2 separate regions of the Homo sapiens genome follow, and region 1 is linked to region 2. The links come from fine-mapping of genetic effects on plasma protein levels. A gene starts in region 2. The other region holds a variant in brackets. All regions are shown on one strand. Distances are between the middles of the regions.

Region 1 (10,179 bases), 67 kb after region 2:
TGGCAGGGCTCCGAGGCAGAGAGCAAAGGTATGCAACACTTTCATTGCGTTCAGTAGGTCAAAACAAGGGACAAGGTCAGCCCAGATTCTAGAGATGAAAAAATGGGCCCCATCTTTTCATAGGAAGAGAGGTGCAAAGTCACATTGCAAAAGGACTTGATGCAGGGAAAAGTGGAGATTTGTGGCCATTATTGCAGTCTGTCTTCCACAGCCAGTAAGTACACACATGTGCACAAGCAATCTAACCACCTTATCCTGAGGTCAAAGATATACGTCATGACTTTCTTAAATCTCAGTGTGACTTGTCTGTATGTTTTGGGTAAATTGTAGTGAAAAGTTCTGTCATAGTGGCATTCATTTCATTTTGTTGTTTTTTGAAGGAAGGACAGTACTTCAATGCAAAACCTAACGCCCATTCAGAATGTTGGGTGAAAATTTATGCACACAAAATCTTTGAAGTTCAACCCTATAGGATGCAAGACCATGAGATTCTGTCCCATATGCTCCAACGGGGGAGGGAGTATTTATCCTGTTCACCAGTGATCCCAAACTCTAGCACATAGTCAGCACTCAGTGAGGTCTGTTGAATGAAGGAGTGGGTCAGTGCAGGTTTTGAAATGAGGATATAACAGGGAATGTGAAGGGCCTGACTGAGCCCTGGGAGCCTGTATGTGAATTCTACAAGGCTCATTAGAATGGTCCAGCCATCTGATATGTTTTTTGTGTGAGGTTTTATGAACAGGACACAATGGGGTGTGATTGGGCTGTCCTTTTCTAAGCATAAAACACGCATGCATTTGATATTTGTCAGTGATGTTTGCTCTTCATCCACTGTTTCCCTTTTCTGACTGAGGACACATGTAAAGTGAATGGGCTTACATGTCAGGAGCAGATCAGAAAAGATTGTTAACTTTTATTTATAACTCTGTCAGTCATTAAATAAGCAAGATACAGAGTCTTATTCTCTAACAGCCTTTAGAAATAAGCCAGATACCCACTAATCTAGTTTCAGAGCCCAGGAATGCACCACATGACACCTCAGCATTCCATCTAGACCTTGGCTCTGGAGCTCTGTGCATTTTGTTCTTCCGAAGTTGAAAGTTAAGTGGGAGAAGCAGTCTGTTTTAATAATTTAAGTGTATCTTCCAGTAGGACTTGGCTTTCAAAGACCATTGAGAGAGGGGAAGGTCAAAGGGCTGCTGCTGTCTTCTGAGGACACCAGCTTCTTGAGCTTTCCTGACCAGTTGATTCCCCTCTCATCGGGCTGTCCTTACATTCTGGTCTCCTAGTTGTGGGGCTCTATTGCTTCTTATTCAGTTGAATTCAGAATACTTTACAGCATCATCTCATGACTTGGAAGTTTTACAGAGAGCAAATCAGTGTTTTAAAAGATGCATTTGGGGGCCGGGCGCGGTGACTCATGCCTGTAATCCCAGCACTTTGGGAGGCCGAGATGGGCGGATCACAAGGTCAGGAATTTGACACCAGCCTGGCCAACATGGTGAAACCCTGTCTCTACTGAAAATACCAAAATTAGCTGGGTGTGGTGGTGTGCACCTGTAATCCTAGCTACTCAGGAGGCCGAGGCAGGAGAATCGCTTGAACCCGGGAGGCGGAGGTTGCAGTGAGCCTAGATTGCACCATTGCACTCTAGCCTAGGAGACAGAGCGAGACTCTCTCTCAAAAAAAAAAAAAGATGCATTTTTGAACTTAATTATAAAATACATACGAATCATAAGGCAACAAACCAATGAATTATCAAGAATAAACACTGATATTTAGGCCTTGACACAGGTGAAGAAATCGAATATTGCCAGCACCCTAAAAGTCCTGTTTGTACCATACCCAGTCATCACCCCTTCTCTCCTACCCAAGTGTAACTACCATCCTGAGTTCCGACATCCATAGATTAATTCTGCCTGTTTTTAAACTTTATATAAATAGAATCAACACAGAGTGTGCACTTTTGTGCCTGGCTCAACATTATGGCCATGCAATTCATCTATTTTGTTGTGGGAAGCAGTGGTTGGTTCATGTTTATTGATGTACAGATTTGCATTGAGTATACCATAACTGATGTACCAGTTAATGGACATTTGAATTGCTTCCAGTTTTTTACTATTATGAACATTCTTAGGCGTGTCTTTTGGTACCCATATGCACACATTACTGTTAAGTGTATATATTTAGGAGTGGAATTGCTGTGTCATGGAGCATCCATATGTTCAATTTTAGTAGAGATGCCCAGTTTTCCATCGTGGTTGTTCCAGTTCACACTCCCACTAACAGTGCTGTATATCCTAGTTAACATTTGATATTGTCGGTCTGTTTAATTTTAGCCATTCTGGTGCTATGCAGTGGTATCTCATTATGACTATAATTAACATTTCTCTCTTACTAGTGAGGTTGAGCATCTTTCCACATGTTTAATGACTAATCTGATATCTTTCTGGTGATGTCCCAAGTCAACTATCTTGCCAATTTTTCTATGGTTTGTCTGTCTACTTAGTATAGATTTGTGGGAGTCCTTTTTAAATTCTGGATACAAGCCCTTTGGAGGTCATATGTGTTGCAGATAGCTTCTCTAACTCTGCCTTGCATTTTAACTCTCTTTGTGGTAGCTTTTAATGAACAGAGGATCTTCATTTTAATGTAATCCAGTTATCTGTCCTTGTGCCAATACCACAGCCTTAAAAGGTAATGCAGTTTTATAGTAAATCTTGAAATGTTTTGCATATGTCTTCCGGCTTTTTCTTTTTCAATATCGCCTTGTCTATTCTTACATTGCATTTCCATAAACTTCCATCCATTGCATTTCCATAAACTTTAACATTCAGTTAATGTCTGAGATTTTTATTGGAATTGTATTAGATCTGTATAGATCGATTTGGACAGAATTGCCAACTTAATGATCTTGAGCCTTCTACTACATGATCATGGTCTATTCCTCCATTCATTTAAGTCTTCTTTAATTTTGCTTAGCAATGTCTTATATCATTCCATGTAGAAGTCTTGAACATCTTTTGTTAGATTTATTCCTATGTGTTTGGTTTTTTTAATGTTATTGTAAATAGCATCCTTTTAAATTTTAATTTTCTGTTTATTGACAATATTTAGAAATACAATTGATGTTTATATTTACTGTAGACCTAGTATCCCTAATAAACTCACATGTTTTTTGTTGTTGTTGTTTTTGAGTTGTTGTTTTTGTTGTTGTTGTTTTTGAGTCTCACTCTGTCACCCAGGCTGGAGTGCAGTGGTACGATGTTGGCTCACTGCAACGTCCGCCTTCCGGGTTCAAGCGATTCTCATGTCTCATCCTCCTGAGTAGCTGGGATTACAGGCATATGCCACCATGCCTGGCTATTTTTTTGTATTTTATTAGAGATGGGCATTCGCCATGTTGGCCAGGCTGGTCTCGAACTCCTGGCTTCAAGTGATCCACCTGCCTAGGCCTCCCAAAGTGCTGGGATTACAAGTGTGAGCCACCATGCCCGGCCTAAGCTCAGATGTTAAATTTTAGTTACTTGTAATATTCATATGTAGATTATTTGGGTTTATCTATGATACACAGTCATATCATCTGTGAATAATAACAGTATTATTTATTCTGTCCCAGCCTTTATGCTTTTAATTTCCTTTTCTTATGTTCTATACTGGCTCTGTGCCTTTGGAGCTAATGAGGTTTTTTCCCTCTTTTCTTCCAGATGAGGCTGAGGCACACATTGACTATGAAGATAACTTCCCTGATGACAGATCTGTGTCATTCAGAGAGCTCATGGAGGATTCCCGGACAGAGGCAGATGAGGACAGGGGTCAGGGAGACTCCTCTGAGGAGGCTCCAAAACAGGACCGTCTGGTCTCCATTTCTGTGGGGAGAGAAAACATAGCCCGGGATAAAGTCTTTGTGCCAACCACAGGCTTGCCTGGTGCTGGGAGCAGTGTCCCCGCAGATTCACCAGGATCACGGCTGCTCCAGAAGCACTTGTTCTGGTTTCCTGCTGAGGCTTTCCACAAGCCTGGGTTGGAAAAGGAGGTGGATGATGACACCAAAAAGCAGTTTTCTGCTGGAGACAACCACAGTGGTGTAAAATTGGTCCCAGGTGAACCTGAAACCAAGGTGATCTACGGCAACACTGATGGTCCCTCGGGGCCATTTGTGGGCAAGAATGACAGCAAGGCAGGAGATCCAGTGGTGAGCAGCAGTGATGAGTCCTGGTTAGATGGCTACCCTGTGACAGAGGGGGCTTGGAGGAAGACAGAGGCAGAAGAGGAAGAAGATGGGGACAGAGGGGATGGGTCAGTAGGGCTGGATGAAAACGTCCTAGTTACTCCTGATCAGCCCATTCTTGTGGAAGTTAAGAAGCCCAAGAGTAGCACCCTCACACCAAGCGAGGGCATGACCCATAGTTCAGTTCTTCCATCTCAAATGCTAGATGTGGAAGCTTTGGCGCTCAGACCCGTGAATGCTTCCGAGACTGAGGGCATTGGGGATGGTGACTTGACGAAGTACCAGTCAACTCTACCCTGGAGATTCATCACAGAGGAATCTCCCATGGCCACCCTGTCCTATGAGCTCACCAGCTCCACCCTGGAGATATTAACAGTGAACACTGTCAAGCAGACACCTAACCACATCCCCTCAACGATCATGGCAACCACCCAGCCTCCAGTAGAAACCACTGTTCCTGAGATCCAGGATAGCTTCCCATACCTGCTGTCTGAAGA[C/A]TTCTTTGGACAGGAAGGCCCCGGGCCAGGTGCAAGTGAGGAGCTTCATCCCACCTTGGAGTCGTGTGTGGGGGACGGATGTCCTGGCCTCAGCAGAGGCCCTGTGATCGCCACCATTGTCACCGTCCTGTGCCTACTGCTGCTCCTGGCAGGTGTGGGGATGGTGTGGGGCTACCGCAAGTGCCAGCACAAGAGCTCTGTGTACAAGCTGAATGTTGGCCAGCGGCAGGCTCGGCACTACCACCAGCAGATCGAGATGGAGAAGGTCTAGGCACCTTTGGAGTGGGTTCTCCCAAAGCCACTTGGGAGGAAAATAACTGTGACACATCACACGATAATTCACTAGAGCATGACGCAGGTGGACTGAGGCTCATCATTTTTTCCTCAGCCCTTTGTTTTATAGGCTGAGAAGTGTCTCTGGAGCACCTGGGAGGGCAGGGAGGCTTTGGTGACATCATCACTCATGTCAATGTCTCCTCCACCATCTGCCCTGGAATTGACTACACTAATCCCAGACCTGTGCTTGGGCCCTGTTTCCAGTGTGAGGTCAAAAATCGCCTCTTCCTTCATCACAGTATTATCTTTTTTTTTTTGAGACAGAGTCTCATGCTGTTGCCCAGGCTGGAGTGCAGTGTCCCGATCTGAGCTCACTGCAACCTCTGCCTCCCAAGTTCAAGCAATTCTCCTGCCTCAGCCTCCCAAGTAGGTGGGATTACAGGCATGCACCACCATGCCCAGCTAATTTTTTTATATTTTTAGTAGAGATGGAGTTTCACCATGTTGGCCAGGCTGGTCAAGAACTCCTGACCTCAAGTGATCTGCCCTCCTTAGCCTCCCAAAGTGCTAGGATTCCAGGTGTGAGCCACATCACAGTATTACCTTTTTGAAGAAAGAAAATCACCAGCTTCATGCCCTGAAATTTTATAAATAGTCATGATAAACCAAGTGTATGAGAGCAGTATTATCTAGGACATGGATATTGAATTATTGGGAGAGGAATATGGAAGAATAATGGGTTGTTTCCTTTTAATGTTGTGATGTTGCTGAGGGCAGATGAACCAAGAGCCAGGACACAGTCTAGAAGCTTTGAGGTTTCTTTTTTCATTGTTTCTTGAAATTAGAATTTAAGACTGACATTTTGTTGGGGGAGTTGAGGAGTGAAGAAACACACATCCCCCTCTGTTCCCTCCATTCTGTGGGACAGTCTGTCATTTATTTTATTTTATTTTCAATATTTCATGGTTAAGGATTTGCCATTATTTTTTAAAAACAAAGTTAGCTTTGTACCAGTAAGTACCATTTCCTCTCAGAAGCAGTGGCCTAGTTGTCCTTGACCAGTCTGTGCCTAGGAATGTCTTGGAATTTTTGCCAGGACTAACAAAACTCAGTCCTTGGTTTCCTCTCTCAGGATTAACCATTTCTCTGAACTCCAGTAAGAGAGAATGACACGGGAGAAAAAAAAAAGAAATGTTTTCAGAGGGCCGAACACCAGGTTATCAAGTATGGGCACATACTTGATGGAGAAGCAGAAGAATCTGTGAAAGAATATGAAATGATCTGTGCTGATCTGTTCTCTAGTGTGGAAACTGGGAGCTCTGTGGAAACAGAATCCATCCTGTCTGTTGGGTAACCCATTTCGTAGCATCTAAATCATCTTAGGGTGGCTCAGCGAGGATGGTTTATGGCAGTGGTTCTCAAAGTGTGGTCCTCAGACCAGTAGCATCAGCGTCACCTGGGAATTTGTTGGAGATGCAAATTCTCTAGTCCCACCCTGGACTCAGGAAACAGGAACCCTGGGAGTAGGGCCCAGTTCTGTTTTTAACAAGCCCTCCAGGTGATTTTGATATGCACTCAAGTTTGAGAGCCTGTTGGTTTATAATAATCTCAAATGTGAACTTCGAGGCCAGCTGAAGCCCTAAAGGCACAGATGAGTATGTGGTGTGTGTTGTGTGGAAGTCAGGCATGGCTGTGTGCAGCTGAGGTGGCATTTGAAGCTGCCTAAATGCCACCTGCAATAGTCTCCTGTATGTTGGCACAGAAATGAAACATGTTATATTTTTCTAATATGAATCACCTTCTTAGAAATAGTTATCAGTGGTAAAAAGTGATGAATGCAACACATTTATTTTGAGACACCATAGCAGTCTAAGTGTTTTTGTGTGGTAGAGGGAAATCCTGATCTTTTTTATGATTGAAAAATTGTTGGTGGTGTTTTACCTAAGGAAAAAAAACATTCGCAACATGTTTTCTACCCTGCCACCTCTTTTCAGCAAGCTTTGGAAAAGTAATAGGCGAAGTAGCTGTAAAGAGAGGCAGCATAATCAAAGATCTTATTCCCCATAGTTGGGTAAAATAAAGCCTGAAGGTACCAACTAGAATACCTGTGCATCAGACGAAGTCAAGAACAATAGGAATAAAATGCTTTCTGCATGTAGCCAAAGCAAAACATAATAGAATAAAAGCCAGAGACTGTATATATTTATAAATTAGATCCTAATCTACTGCAAGATAACTTTTCTATTTTTAACTATATAAAATAACCTCTGTCTCAGCATTGGGACTGTGTTAGCAACTATTATTGTGGAATAACCCAGAACATTGGATTTATACCAACAAATAGGCAATATTAATACAGTGTATTAATAAATTTATTACAAATTATTAATACAGTGTATTAATAAATTTATTACAAATTATTAATACAGGTAAATGTTTTATTTGTAGACATGGACTGTGAAATAAACCCAACACATCAGTTTTTAAGTTCTTATTGGTGTGGTATCCTCTAAATTAATGTTATAGAATCTAAAAATTCATGTTGAAAGGGAATGATTAAAACAATGTAAATCTAAATTGTATGTCATGCATGTTTTGAGAATGGTGAATGTTTAATGCTCATGAAAATTGGGGGAGGGGGTTCTATTAACACAAAGCTTCTGAGATATTTAAAATAAATAATTATTGCCCCAACAGTTGCTGAATGTATTTTATTTCTAGGCTACTGCACCAAGGTTTAAAAAAAGAAAAAAATTCTCGCTGGGCACAGTGGCTCACACTGGTAATCCCAGCACTTTGGGAGGCTGAGGTAGGCAGATCACTTGAGGTCATGAGTTCGAGACCAGCCTGGCCAACATGGTGAAATCTTTTCTGTACTAAAAATACAAAAATTAGCCGGGCGTGATAGCATGCTTGTGGTACCAGCTACCCAGGAGGATCAGGCAGGAGAATTGCTTGAACCCGGGAGGCAGAGGTTGCAGTGAGCTGAGATCATGCCACTGCACTCCAGCGTGGGGGACAGAGCAAGGCTCCATTCAAAAAAAAAATCTCTAGTAATCTTGAAAATAATGTCTTAATACTTGCTATATCTAAGATCTAAGACTGCCCTTTCTAAACCTAACTCTCAGTTATGTTACCTCCTGCAGCAGGATTTTAGGGAAGTTGGTGGCACTCTTGCCCCCCCCTCCCTCCCTACTTCCCTCTTCCTTGCCCCGCCCCCCCCTACTTCCCTCTTCCTTGCCCCAACCAGAGACCACTTACTTCACTGCAACGAAACACCCGGGACCTCGCTATTCAAAGTGTGGCTCCTGCCCCAGCAGCACAGGCACTGCGAGCTTGTTAGAAGTACAGAATCTCAGGCCCTGCCCCAGGACTGCTGAATCAGGATCTGCATCTAACAGGATGCCCAGGTGGTGGGCATGAATGGTAAAGCTTGAGAAGCACTGGCCTAAGAGAGAACTGATTATCCCCTTTCTCCTAACTCACAGGACACTCAAAGGAGTAATTAGAGGGTTAGCTGAAGGGACTGTTCACAAAGGTGTGGGGAAAGTTAGGGGAACCATCAGGGGATGGTGGGGACCTGTTATGGAACCCAACAAGAGCTCAGTAATAGGAAAGGCCCTGCAGGACAAGGGCTCTGGCCTCAAAGAGAATGCAGCCAGTGTCCAACTGTGGCCTGGAGGAAGCAAAGATTTTAAGGAACCAGACCTTGTCTCACCCTGCCATCTCTTGTTGGCATGTCCCAGTGGCAACTGGAAATCAGAGGGTGAAGAAGCCCAGGCAATGGAACCATAGAGGTCAGGCTTCTGGGACACCGGGCATGTTGGAGGGGCATGTTGGAAGAGATACGGAAGGGCAGCTAGCAAATCCAGCTCAGACGCCATCAGCACCAATCCCATCTGCCTTATGTCCATTTTTACATCCATGACCACCACAGATCCATGCCTCCCAAGCCTTCCAATGTTGTGGACATTGTTGATGCCCCTCCCAGGTCCCCTTTGCTAGGTAGGTGAACCTGTCTTCCAGCTGCCCTGAGTGTTGGCTGTTAAAATGCTCATAAGCACGTAAGTGTACCCTTCCAACGCAGAGAATTGCCCTTGGCCTATTGAGAGTTCCCTCACCCAGGAAGTTAGACCACGGTATACTCTGCTAGGGCAGCCTATAACCAATGACCAGCTGTCATGGGAATGCAAAAGGCTGGCCTCCTTTCCTCAAGGTGGGACCAACTCCGATATGATTCATGCTCCAGAGCTCCCATGAGATCAAGCTGAAGTCAGTCTCCAACTGAAGACACATCCTTACTGGCTCCTTCCTGCTTCTCTCACACCCCTTCTCTTGAGAGCACCCCATCACTTCCCTTGCTTCAAAGGATCCTGACCTAAGACATCCATCAACACTCAACTCTTACTCCCTACACCTCCTCTCCTCAGTCCAGATTTTTTCACCATAACCTCTGGAATTCTTGGGCTGACCTCCATGTCCTCCACCTCTTCTTCAGACAGCTGTTTCAACTCTCCATAACGTGGACTTCTTTTTGTGCTGGCTGGTTCCTCACTCTTTCCACCTGCTTCCTTCTACTCTTCTTTCTCCTGCCTGCCCTTTAGTGGCATGCATGGAGCATAGTTGCTGTTGACAGTCATGCCTGAAGATGCTTTGTGTCCCTGTTTGAAACAGATTCCAAATGTTTTTCCTAGTGGGATTCCAGATCTCCTCTGAAAGACAATCTTCCGGGGGAGAGGCATGAGCCTCTACTGCCTGACAGGACCTCAGCCAGCTCTTGGCTCATGGAGAGCAAGGACCACTCCTCTTGCATGAGATCCAGGAGTCCCTGGCTTGAAGTTTCTACTTTGTTAGATGAATGTCAGAAATTTCACAGACCTGAGAAAACAGAGCTCATTACAACATAGCTTCTAGAATGTGGTGAAGACATCCCTGTCCAGTGGATAGAATAGAAAATAGAGAATAAGCAATGTAAAACATTTAATGTGATTTAAAAAGAAAAACAAAAACCTTTTGTTTTCAACTATTTTCTAATTTTCAACAAGAGTGAGCTTGTACATACCACACTAACCCAAAGAGGGGAGGCAGAAAAAGACATCAGCAACGGTCTTTGGAGTTTGGCCTACTGGCTGCCACCCTAAAGTGGGAGATAAAACTCTGGAATCTATCTTGTAT
Region 2 (10,179 bases):
ACCACACCCAGCTAATTTTTTGTATTTCTAGTAGAGAAGGGGTTTCACCATGTTGGCCAGGCTGGTCTCAAACTCCTGACCTCAAGTGATCTGCCTGTCATGGCCTCCCAAAGTGTTGGGATTACAGGCATGAGCCACCGTGCCTGGTCTAAATGCTTTATTTTTAATTCAATCAGCAAACAGAAACGGTTGGCTTTCTCCTACCAAGGGTAGCAGCCTGCTTTTACTATCTTATCTCAGGGTTGTATCTAGAAACAAATTGATACCCAGGTACTACTATCACACATAAAAAGATACAATATTTCTGAAGCCATTTACTATGTGGTAACCCATAAGGTTTACAGTTTTGAAAGCAAGAGGGAGCTCTGCACTATCTACGTTGCAGTACAAGCTGCCTTGCTGCTTTGGCCTTATGTTACAAGAGGTACAATACTTTAAGTGACTGTGGCAGATAAAAATGCCTTATGAAGCACTTGTGCAAACCAAAAAAATTGCAGTGAAGACTCCTACAGTTTTCGTGTACAGTCAATTATTCACCATACGATAAGCACTTCCAACCTTGCTACTGGCCCTGGTAGAGATTGACTGCTTGACCACAAGACACCGCATGAGTGTGACGCCTTAGTTGGTCTCGTGAATGAGGTATTTTGAATCACAAAGCAGAATTCTACTATCAAATGAAAATGGTACATACAAGAGTAGGCTCGGAATGAACATGTAAATCACATGAGCAAGAGGCTTAGACTCCTATGGCACTTGCTTCCACTGCTTTACTGCCTTTCCCTCAACCCACACCTATGGCCTCATGGGGAGTTTTACTTAATGGAAGAGAAAAAACTTGAACCTGCTTTATGCTTGGATGTCTATGGGGTAGGACTAGTTAGCCTCACACTGGTATAGCACTAAAAACAACAGTGGCATGAAAAGACAAATATTATGTGATTCCACATATATAAGGTACGTAGAATAGTCAAATTCATAGAGACAGAAAGTGGAACAGTGGTTACTGGCTGCTAGAGGGAGGAGGGAATAGGGAGTTATTGTTTAACGGGTACAGAGTTTCCGTTTGAGATGATGAAAAACTTGGAGGTGGCCGGTGGTGACGGTTTCACAACAATGTAAATGTTCTTAAGGCCACTGATTTGTATACTTAAAATGGTCACAATAATAAATGCTATGTATATTTTATTAGAGTAACATTTTTCTATTGAAAAGTAAAAACTAGCAAAAGAGAATCCTCCCAATGGGTGGAGCTTTGGTTTACATGAAAGGAGAGATGGCTTCATTTATGGATCTTCACTGATTTATGGACAATGCCTAATCATCAGTTAATGACTTGAAAAGTTCAGAACTAGGAGACTGATAGCAAGGATGTCAGTGTGGTTCTCCTGGGATGGGCACAGCGTGTGTGTGTGTGTGTGTGTGTGTGTGTGTGTGTGTGTGTGTGTAGAGAGAGAGAGAGAAAGAGGGAGAGAGAGAGAGAGTGCACCGTGAGTCTTCATATGGCATTATTCCCTAGCCAGCCTCTCCTGTTGACTACGTAGAGAAAGGTTATTTAAATTGGATTTTTTTTTCATAGAGACTGCAGTTATTTGTCCTTATTGGAATAAATTCTTTTATTTTCTTGCTGTATTTGTTGAAATAAATTCTTATCCTAAATCTGACTTTGCCTTCTTTGTCTGGCTTTCTTCTACTAGCACCACTATATGTAGATGTATATAGAATGTCTTCTCACCCATGGCCATAGCAGCACACATTACATCATCTCTAATCAAGAAACTGATTTTGTAGAAATCGGTGGGGCAATAGACTCATTTCATGATATTTACCTAGAAGCATGTGGCTTGACAGAAAGATAAGTCACAGTTAAGGTACTAGCTAGAAGACAGCACCCCGGGAATTTGGGACATTCACTCCGGTTACAATATATGCCTTAAACCAGTAGCCAATATGTGGTGTAATTTCTCTCATAGACATAAGAGACTGGTTTAAGGACCAAGGTCAAAGTGGGACCTCTCTATTACATATAGTAACCCATCTAGCAAAGTTTTGCATAATATCCCCACATCCTTTAGATTGGTGAGTTGGGATACAACTCTTAGTAGTGGATGAAAAAAGAAAGAAAAAAAAAGATTGGTGAGTTGGGAGGTTTGGGTGCCCACGACAGAAATGCTTCCTTGTCAATTGGAAGCTGAGACTTTTCTCTTGTAATTTTGTAGTCCTCATGTTGAAGAACCAAGAGGCAGAAAAGAAGGTTAGTTTACTGACTGGGTGATGGATCCTGATTACCTGATTACCAAGGGGAAATTGGATTCCTGCTTCATAATGGGATGACTATGTCTAGACCTCAGAGGACTCCCATATCCAATAATTATGGTCACTGGCAAACTAATAAAGATAAGTCTTTGGCGGGAATGAAATTTTAGGCCCCTGTCATCAGTTAAAAAAAAATTCATGCAGGCCAAAATGCTCAGAGAGTAGAGGGAAACATTGGAATGATTGTCAAATAAGGCCTCATGACCAGTTACAGAAGTGGGGACAGTAGAATCTATATTTTGTGACAACTGTTTACTTCTCCCCTTTTCTGTTTATGTGAAACTGTATTTATGTGAATGTAACCACTGATGGTTAATATCACAGTTTAGCTCCAAGTGGAAATTTGACTGAGTTGACATTATTCCCAGGTCATACAAGAGAGGACTGACAGGATTTTGTGTTTCTCCTGTTTTATTTCTAGTTATTCTTAATCAAATGAAAGAAAAAAGTAGATGAGCTGTGCTGGTTGTTTCCCATTTGCCATTCCAGATCCACTCTTTAACCTTCTTTGTCCAACCCTGCACCCTAACAAGGTGACTTCTAAGGACCACTGCACCTGTGCTTCTTTACCCTTTAGCTTTTAAATGGTTCAGCCAATAGAAGGTATCAAGAGGAATATCAAGGATAGAAGGAGAGAGAGGTCAGGGTCTTTCTTCCTCACTCCCTCCCTACCAGACCAGTGGCAGCATCTTGATTTTTCTACCTATGGGTATCCTTTTTTTCAGGCGGCCTCTTTCATGGCCACAGCTGTTGCTGGTTTGGTAACACCTCAACCTTCCCTCACACCTTCAGGCCTCACCATGGCTACAGCTTCCAGCTGTTGCTAGACCCAGGAGTTTCACCACCCCTTATTGGTTCTCTCGGTCCTGTCCACATCACTGCATGTGGTCCTTTCATCAAACTCTCTTCTATTAAACTTTTTTTTTTTTTTTTTAAAGACAGAGTCTTGCTCTGTCGCCCAGGTTGGAGTGCAGTGGCACAATCTTGGCTCACTGCAATGTCCGCCTCCGAAGGTCAAGCAATTCTCCTGCCTCAGCCTCCCAAGTAACTGCGACTACAGGCACGTGCCACCACGCCTGGCTAATTTTTTGTATTTTTAGTAGAGATGGGGTTTCACTGTGTTAGCCAAGATGGTCTCAATCTCCTGACCTCGTGATCCACCCACTTCCCAAAGTGCTGGGATTAGAGGCGTGAGCCACCGCACTTGGCCTTCTATTAAACCTTCTTTATTTTTTAGTGCAAGGACTGAAATTCTGATTTTTAAAGTATTTGTTACTGAAGTATAAGTATTCAATTAAATACAAAGATTTCAAGTGTACAGTTTAGGGATGTTTGACAAACATATACACTCATGTGACCACCATCCCCATCAGGAATAGAACATTTTCATCACTTCAGATGTTCCCTTGTGTTCCCGTTCTATCAAAGGCAACCACTGTGTTGACTGTTTTCACCACAGATTAGTTTTGTCCTGTCTTGAACTTCATATAAATGGAATTACACAGTATGAATTGTTTTGTGTAAGACTTCTTTCACTCTGTATGCTATCCTTGAGATTCTTTCACGTGTTGAGTAGTTCATTCAGTAGTTCATTCCTGTTGTCGAATAGTATTCTATTGTGTGAATATGACAGTTTGTTTTTCTATTCATCTGTTGATGATATCCGAATTCCTTCTAGTTTTTGATCATTGCAAATAAAGCTGCTATGAACAGTTGTGCACAAATATTTTTGTGAATATAGGTTCTCATTCTTTTGGATATAATCCTAGGAGAGGAATTTCTGGGTCCTAAGGCAGGTATATGTTTAGATGGAACAGCCGGTTTTCTAAAGCAACCATACCAATTACCCTTACAGCATGCCATCTCCTCACATCAGGACAGGCCAAGACAATTGTGAATAAGCATAATCTTGAAAATGTTAGGAGAATTAAGTAGTAATATTCAATTGACTGTTTTTAAAATGTTCCTAGGCAAAGCTCCTGAGTGAGTGAGTTGGTAGCTCTTGGCAGGTACCTTCTGATCCCTCCCCTCCGTTCTCAGCACTAACCAGGCTTTAAAATGACCCCTCCAGTCCAGACATGTGAAGTCTCACTCCTTAGGTTACCAGCTAACTGTTAAAAGGGAAGGAGCTGGCCGGGTGTGGTGGCTCATGCCTGTAATCCCAGCACTTTGGGAGGCCGAGGCCGGCGGATCACGAGGTTAAGAGATCGAGACCATCTGGCCAACATGGTGAAACCCCGTCTCTACTAAAAATACAAAAATTAGCTGGGCGTGGTGGTGCACGCCTGTAGTCCCAACTACTCGGGAGGCTGAGGCAGGAGAATCGCTTGAACCTGGGAGGCTGAGGTTACAGTGAGTCAAGATCGCTCCACGGTACTCCAGCCTGGCAACAGAGCGAGACTCTATCTCAAAAAAAAAAAAAAAAAAAAAAAAAAGGGAAGGAGCTAAGTAAATTCATTTATACTTGTCAGGCCTCACTGCATTTAACACCTCACTGCATTAACAGCTACCACGCCCGGCTAATTTTTGTATTTTTGTAAAGATGGAAATTTCACCATGTTGGCCAGGCTGGTCTCCAACTCCTGATCTCAGGTGATTGGTCGGCCTCCGCCTCCCAAAGTGCTTGGATTACAGGCCTGGGCAACCGTGTCCGGCCAGTATTTGTATTTTGAAAGCAAAGTTTAATTATCCAAAATAATTACTCATTAATAGTAGCCCTTGTAGTTGATGGGAAGTAATAAGGAGAGAAGAAATCTTTTCAGTACATTTCAACAATTAATGCAAGCTGAAAAATGACACCTGTAGTAAATCAGATGTGGATTCAAATCCAAGTTCTTACTGTGAAAAGAAAGTAAATTATTTCAATGTCTGTGTCCTGGTTCATTAAATGAGGATAATCATCTGCCCCTTTAGCACCAATCACTTTTTCAATTGTAAGTATATTTTATTTAAGTGTGAACATTTTTAGGACCGATTGCAGCCACATTCAGGGTCTAGCACAGGGACAGGCATGTATGGGCACTCAATAGATGTTTGTTGACCCATACATCAATATAAAAGGGATTTGCAAATTGTAGAGCACCGCGCATGCCTCAGTTATAACAATACTGATCTTTATTACTCTACCTATGAAGAAAGCAAGTTCTTCTTTCACTGAACAGGGCTGGTGGTAGGGAGACAGGCTAGGGGCGAGCAGGAAGAAGGAATCAAGTCAAACAGGGACCCCTGCAGCAGAATCCATTGGGACACTTTAACTTAGAGTGTAGATTCCCAGACCAGACCGACAGAGTCCGAATCTCAGACCCTTTCGAGGTCAAAAAGCCCTGATTTGGGAGGTGGGTGATAATGGTGACAATCTCACTAGCCCTCTTACTGCTCCTTGAGAAATACTAGCGTACCAGGAAAAGTGGTGAAGGAAGCGTTCCTGAAGATATCCTTTCCTCAGTGACTCTCAAACTTCGCTTTTAGGAAAGAGGAATTTCGCTATTCCATGCGTTTCACACCTTAGAGTGAGGGTGGTAGGTAACTTAGATTTTCCTCTCTTCATTAAAAAAAAAAAAAAAAAAGAGTGTTGGTGGGGAGGGGGAGGAGGCCAGTTGAAAAGTAGAGGCCGAGGACAGAGTTAGACACTCGTTGTCTAACGGCCCTGCCGGAGGGGCTCCGCCTGTCAGACTGCGTCACCCTCTCGCCAAGGGTCCCCCAGACGGGCGGGGGCTCCTTGCGGCCGGCTAGCTACTCTCCCCGCCTCCCTGCGCCCTCGCCCTCCGCCCCGCTGTACCCGCAGAGCGCGCGGCCCAGCGCAGCCCCTTTTGGCACCGAGGTTTCCAGGTGCCCAGCGCGAAGGCGGAGCCGGGTTACAGCCGCCTCCTCGGCGCCACAGAGAAGACCCCCGGGAGTTCGGCGGCCCAGGCGCTCCGGCTCTGCGTCCCGAGCCTCCCCCGGCTCTCCGCGCTCCTCCCTCTCGGCGCGCCCGGCGCGAAGCCTGCGATTCGTGAGCCGAGCGCAGAGCGCAGAGCCGAGTGGCGCACGCTGGGCAGTGGCCTGGGCAACCCCAAACGCAGCCAGAGCCCTCACCCGAGTCCGCTGGCCCGCGCACTCCCGGACCATGACTGCCGAGGGACCCAGCCCGCCTGCCCGTTGGCACAGACGCCTCCCCGGGCTCTGGGCGGCGGCGCTGCTCCTGCTCGGTCTGCCGCGCCTTTCGGTGCGGGCGGATGGTGAGTGTGCGGGAGGCGGCGGGGCGGGGGGTGGAGCGTGGGGTCCGGGCAGGGAGGGCGTAGCTCGCCGGGGCTGCTCCCTCTGACCGGCCCGGCAAGCGGCAAGCGCAAGCCTGAGAGGAACGAACGAGCCGCGGTCCTGCGACCCAGCATCCCTCTCCTGGCCCACCAAGTCTCCGCGTGCCCGTGCGCCCAAACGCCCGCCTGGTGCCTGGACCCTCCCTTAGCGCCGAGCGCGTAGGTCCCGCAGTCCCGCCGCTGGCTTTCCTAAGGTCTCCAAGAAAGCTCGAATGAAATCACCTCTAAGGTGCCCTAGAACCTCCTCTGCTAAGGGGTGATTTTCCGCCGTCCCTCAGTTTCTCAACGTCTATTAATGTGCCCCTGAGGACACCGCCGATGGTTAGAAAACTCCCTCGGATATTTTGGCTTGGTCCGGGAAGACGTGAAAGATGAGTGGGAATCAGCGAGGCTAAGAGAGAGAGAATGGCCTGGCCAGAGGGAAAAGCACGTGCAAAGGCTGTCTCTGAGTGACAGGAAAAACGGGACAAATGATAAAGCAAAGTACCTGGAGGCGAGGGGACGTCTTGAGACATGAGGTAGAGAAGTGGGCAAGGGCCAGATTATGGCAGGTTCTCTGAGAATTGATCCACTTCTTGTTCGTTTGCTTGGTTTTTCAGCCTGAATTTAGCTTGTAATACTTGCCCTAAAATGAGCAGGATTGGAGCTCTGTATCCATTCCCTTTTGAAAAGCTAATTCAGCTGTGTTTTCATATTAGAACAAAATCCCGCTGACTTGGTACAGGAGCATCTGAAGGAAGCAAGCTTAAAGCCAGCAGTTCTCACACCCATGAGGTAGTTCTAGCTTAGGACGAATTAGACTGATAAAAGAGAAAAGCCCTCCGTCAATTTAGGATGCGTTGTATATTTTAAAATGTGATTCTTGTTTAGCCAACGATATTGAGTGAAACTAGAAGACATGGGGAAAAAAAAAAAAAGCATGGTTGTCAGGAAAAGGGGAAAGCCAAGGAAAAAACCGTCTAGGTCGTAGAGTTTTTAGTGCTCTCTGTTTTAAGTGCAGGCTTGAAAAGCTCTCCGTTCCTAATTAAGGATGAATGTCGTATTTCTCCATATCCTCAGAGAGAGTGTTAGAGACAAAACATTTTTAACTTTGAAGGCTGTTAGTAACCACTGCTAATTTTTTTAATTGACATGTATTTCACATAAAATTTGTCATTTTAAAATATACAGTTAAGTGGGTTTTAGTATATTCATTAGGTTGTGAAAACCATGGTTTGCATGCATCTAATTCCAGAACATTTCCATCACTCCTCAAAAGAATCCCATACCTATTAGCAGTTTACTGATAATTCTTCACTGTAGTGTTTTTTGACTGACATTGAGCCATGAAAATTAAGCTGATTTTAAAGAATGCAAGTAGAATAAATTGGAGCTAATATTAATCTTTGAACAAGATATATTGTGCCAACTTTAATTCCTTTTAAATAAATATTTTTGCAATCCATAAGGTTTTAGAGTTTCATCCCATTATAACTGTTTAAGTGGAATGCCATGTGGATAAGGATCAATATTTTGTGCCTGTCTAGCTTGATACGGGTCATAGAAAATTAAAGGCAGAAATGTCACTGGTCAAAGAGAAAGTAAGGACAACACCAGAGCACATGATTCTTTGTTACTGCTTGCCAGAAATGATTCCTTTTCTTCATTCTCCTTCCTTTTCTTTCCCCACTTCCTCAGTGGACAATTATAGGTATACTTCCTTATAGTAAACTCAATTTTATGAGCTCCAACTTTTATACTAGAACCAGGAAGAGTTATAAGCTATATTATCAAAGGATTCTTTTTGGTACTAAATTCTTAGCTGCCACCAGTTCCTACATTTAGTTATTTGTGTGCTATGGTGACGGGAGGAAGAAGAAGAAATGCTCAGCTTAAGTATGATGAATTACAGATGTTTGAAGAGATAGATTTGGAGAGAAACTATTTCTAAAAACGTGTCATCTGTATAAGGATGGTCTTTGAAATCATGTGCGTGGGCAGAATCCTAAGGAAAAATTTTACAGCAAGAAGACCTAGAACTGAGCCTGGAGTGAGGGAAGCTGGTTTGGGATTATTGAATCTATGTTTATGAAACATATTAGCCTGTAATTTTCATTTTTTATAATATCTTTGCCAAGTGTTGATATCAAACGTATGATGGTTCCTAAACCAAATTGTAAAGTTGCTCCTTCTTTAACTCTGAAAGGGTTTCTGCGGGTGAGGGCTTTTGTTTGTTTGTTTTGGTGTGAGATCATCTGTGTCTGAAGGTTTTCTTGTAGGAAGATTTTAAATAATGAATTTAATTTGTTTGGTAGATAAAGAAGTATTCAGATTTTAAAATTAATTTTGTGTCAATGTTGCTAAGTTTTATTTTTTAAAGTTTTTCCCCCACTTCATTTAGATTGTCTAATGTGGCATATACAATGTAATAATCTCTAATTATCATTTCAGGGTCCACGGGATCTGTAGTGATGTTCCCTTTCATTCTTGATATTGGTACTTTGTGTTTTCTCTTTTTTTGTCTTGATCAGTCTTAGTAGGGGTTTATCCGTTTTATTATTCATTTGAAAAAAGCAACTTTTGGCTTTATTTTCTTGATTGTGTGTCTGCTTTCCGTTTTACTGATTTCTGCTCTATCTGTATTATTTCCTCCTTCTACGTTAGAAGATTTGATTTTGTGGGACTTTTGTGTTTGTTTTTTGAGCTAGAAACTTAGATCATTGATTCTCAACCATACTTTTTTGGTATTAATAATGTGAGATCTGAGGCTATAAATTTCTCTTAAACTACTTTAGTTTCTCCATAAGTTTTTGGCCCTTGAGTTGACATGTTTTATTTCAGTTGGGATTTCTTCTTTGAACACAGTTTATTTAGAAGTATATTTTGTAATTTCCATGCACAAGGGGATTTTCCTAGTTATTGCTTTGTTATTGAGAGGCAGTATAACCAAGTGATTAAAATCACTAACGGAGCCATACTGCCTGGTTCTGTATCTCTGCTGTGTGATCTCGGACAAGCATTAATACTAAACCTTAACTATAAAATGAGGATGATAATACCACCTATATCATAGAGTTGTCATAAGAATTAATTTAATGAGTATTTGTAAAGCAATTTGAACAACATCTAGTCCATAGTAAACACTATATAAGTGTTTCATATATAAAATAAGTGATTTTAGCTTTGTTGTAGTCTAAAAGGCATGCTTTGTATGATTTTTGTCTTTTGAGGTTTTTTTAGATTTGCTTTATAGCTCAGTATTTGATCAGTTTTACAAATGTTCTGTGTGTGCCTAAAATGAATGTGTATTCTGTAGTTTGGTATGCAGTAGTGCACATAGGTTCTTACATCAAGAGTGCTAATTTTGTTTTCTGTTTTAACAATTACTGAGAGGGATAGTAGTTTAAAATTTCCTCAAGGATTGTGGATTTTTTTGTTTTTCCTTGTAGTTTTGTTAATACTACCTTTTTGTAGTTAAATGTAGGAGTGCCAGTCACCTATGGAAGTGTTTATTTAAAATTTTTTTTTGTATTTTTATTATAACTTTTGGTTCCAAAGCTGTGGAATTATTATATTTATTATAATAATT

Alleles and levels. Positions count from the first base shown, and alleles are read on the strand shown. Strength reflects both the effect of a copy and how common the allele is.
For the plasma level of the protein whose gene starts at base 6,409 in region 2, allele C in region 1 goes with a lower level than allele A (weak association).

Evidence for each region. PIP is the posterior inclusion probability: the model's chance that the variant is causal. Protein levels are from antibody-based Olink assays in UK Biobank. Linkage for the fine-mapping came from a reference panel and not from the study's own genotypes, which makes the PIPs less certain.
Region 1: its variant is fine-mapped to the plasma level of the SUSD5 protein (UK Biobank, PIP above 0.99). The variant lies in the coding sequence of SUSD5. If it changes the protein, the assay may bind it differently, which can mimic a change of level.

Annotation. Positions count from the first base shown.
Region 1 is chr3:33,147,562-33,157,740 of GRCh38, reverse strand. It overlaps SUSD5 (sushi domain containing 5), which reads left to right. Exons shown (of 5, transcript NM_015551.2): 5 at 3,708-7,698. The coding sequence ends at 4,999. CRTAP (cartilage associated protein) reads right to left here. Exons shown (of 7, transcript NM_006371.5): 7 at 9,968-10,179. Among named protein-coding and RNA genes, the nearest start is that of CRTAP, 39 kb to the right of the region's middle. RefSeq lists an enhancer at 3,727-4,926. The variant C/A (reference allele first, on the strand shown) is at 4,729.
Region 2 is chr3:33,215,040-33,225,218 of GRCh38, reverse strand. It overlaps SUSD5 (sushi domain containing 5), which reads left to right and starts at 6,409. Exons shown (of 5, transcript NM_015551.2): 1 at 6,409-6,533. The coding sequence starts at 6,422.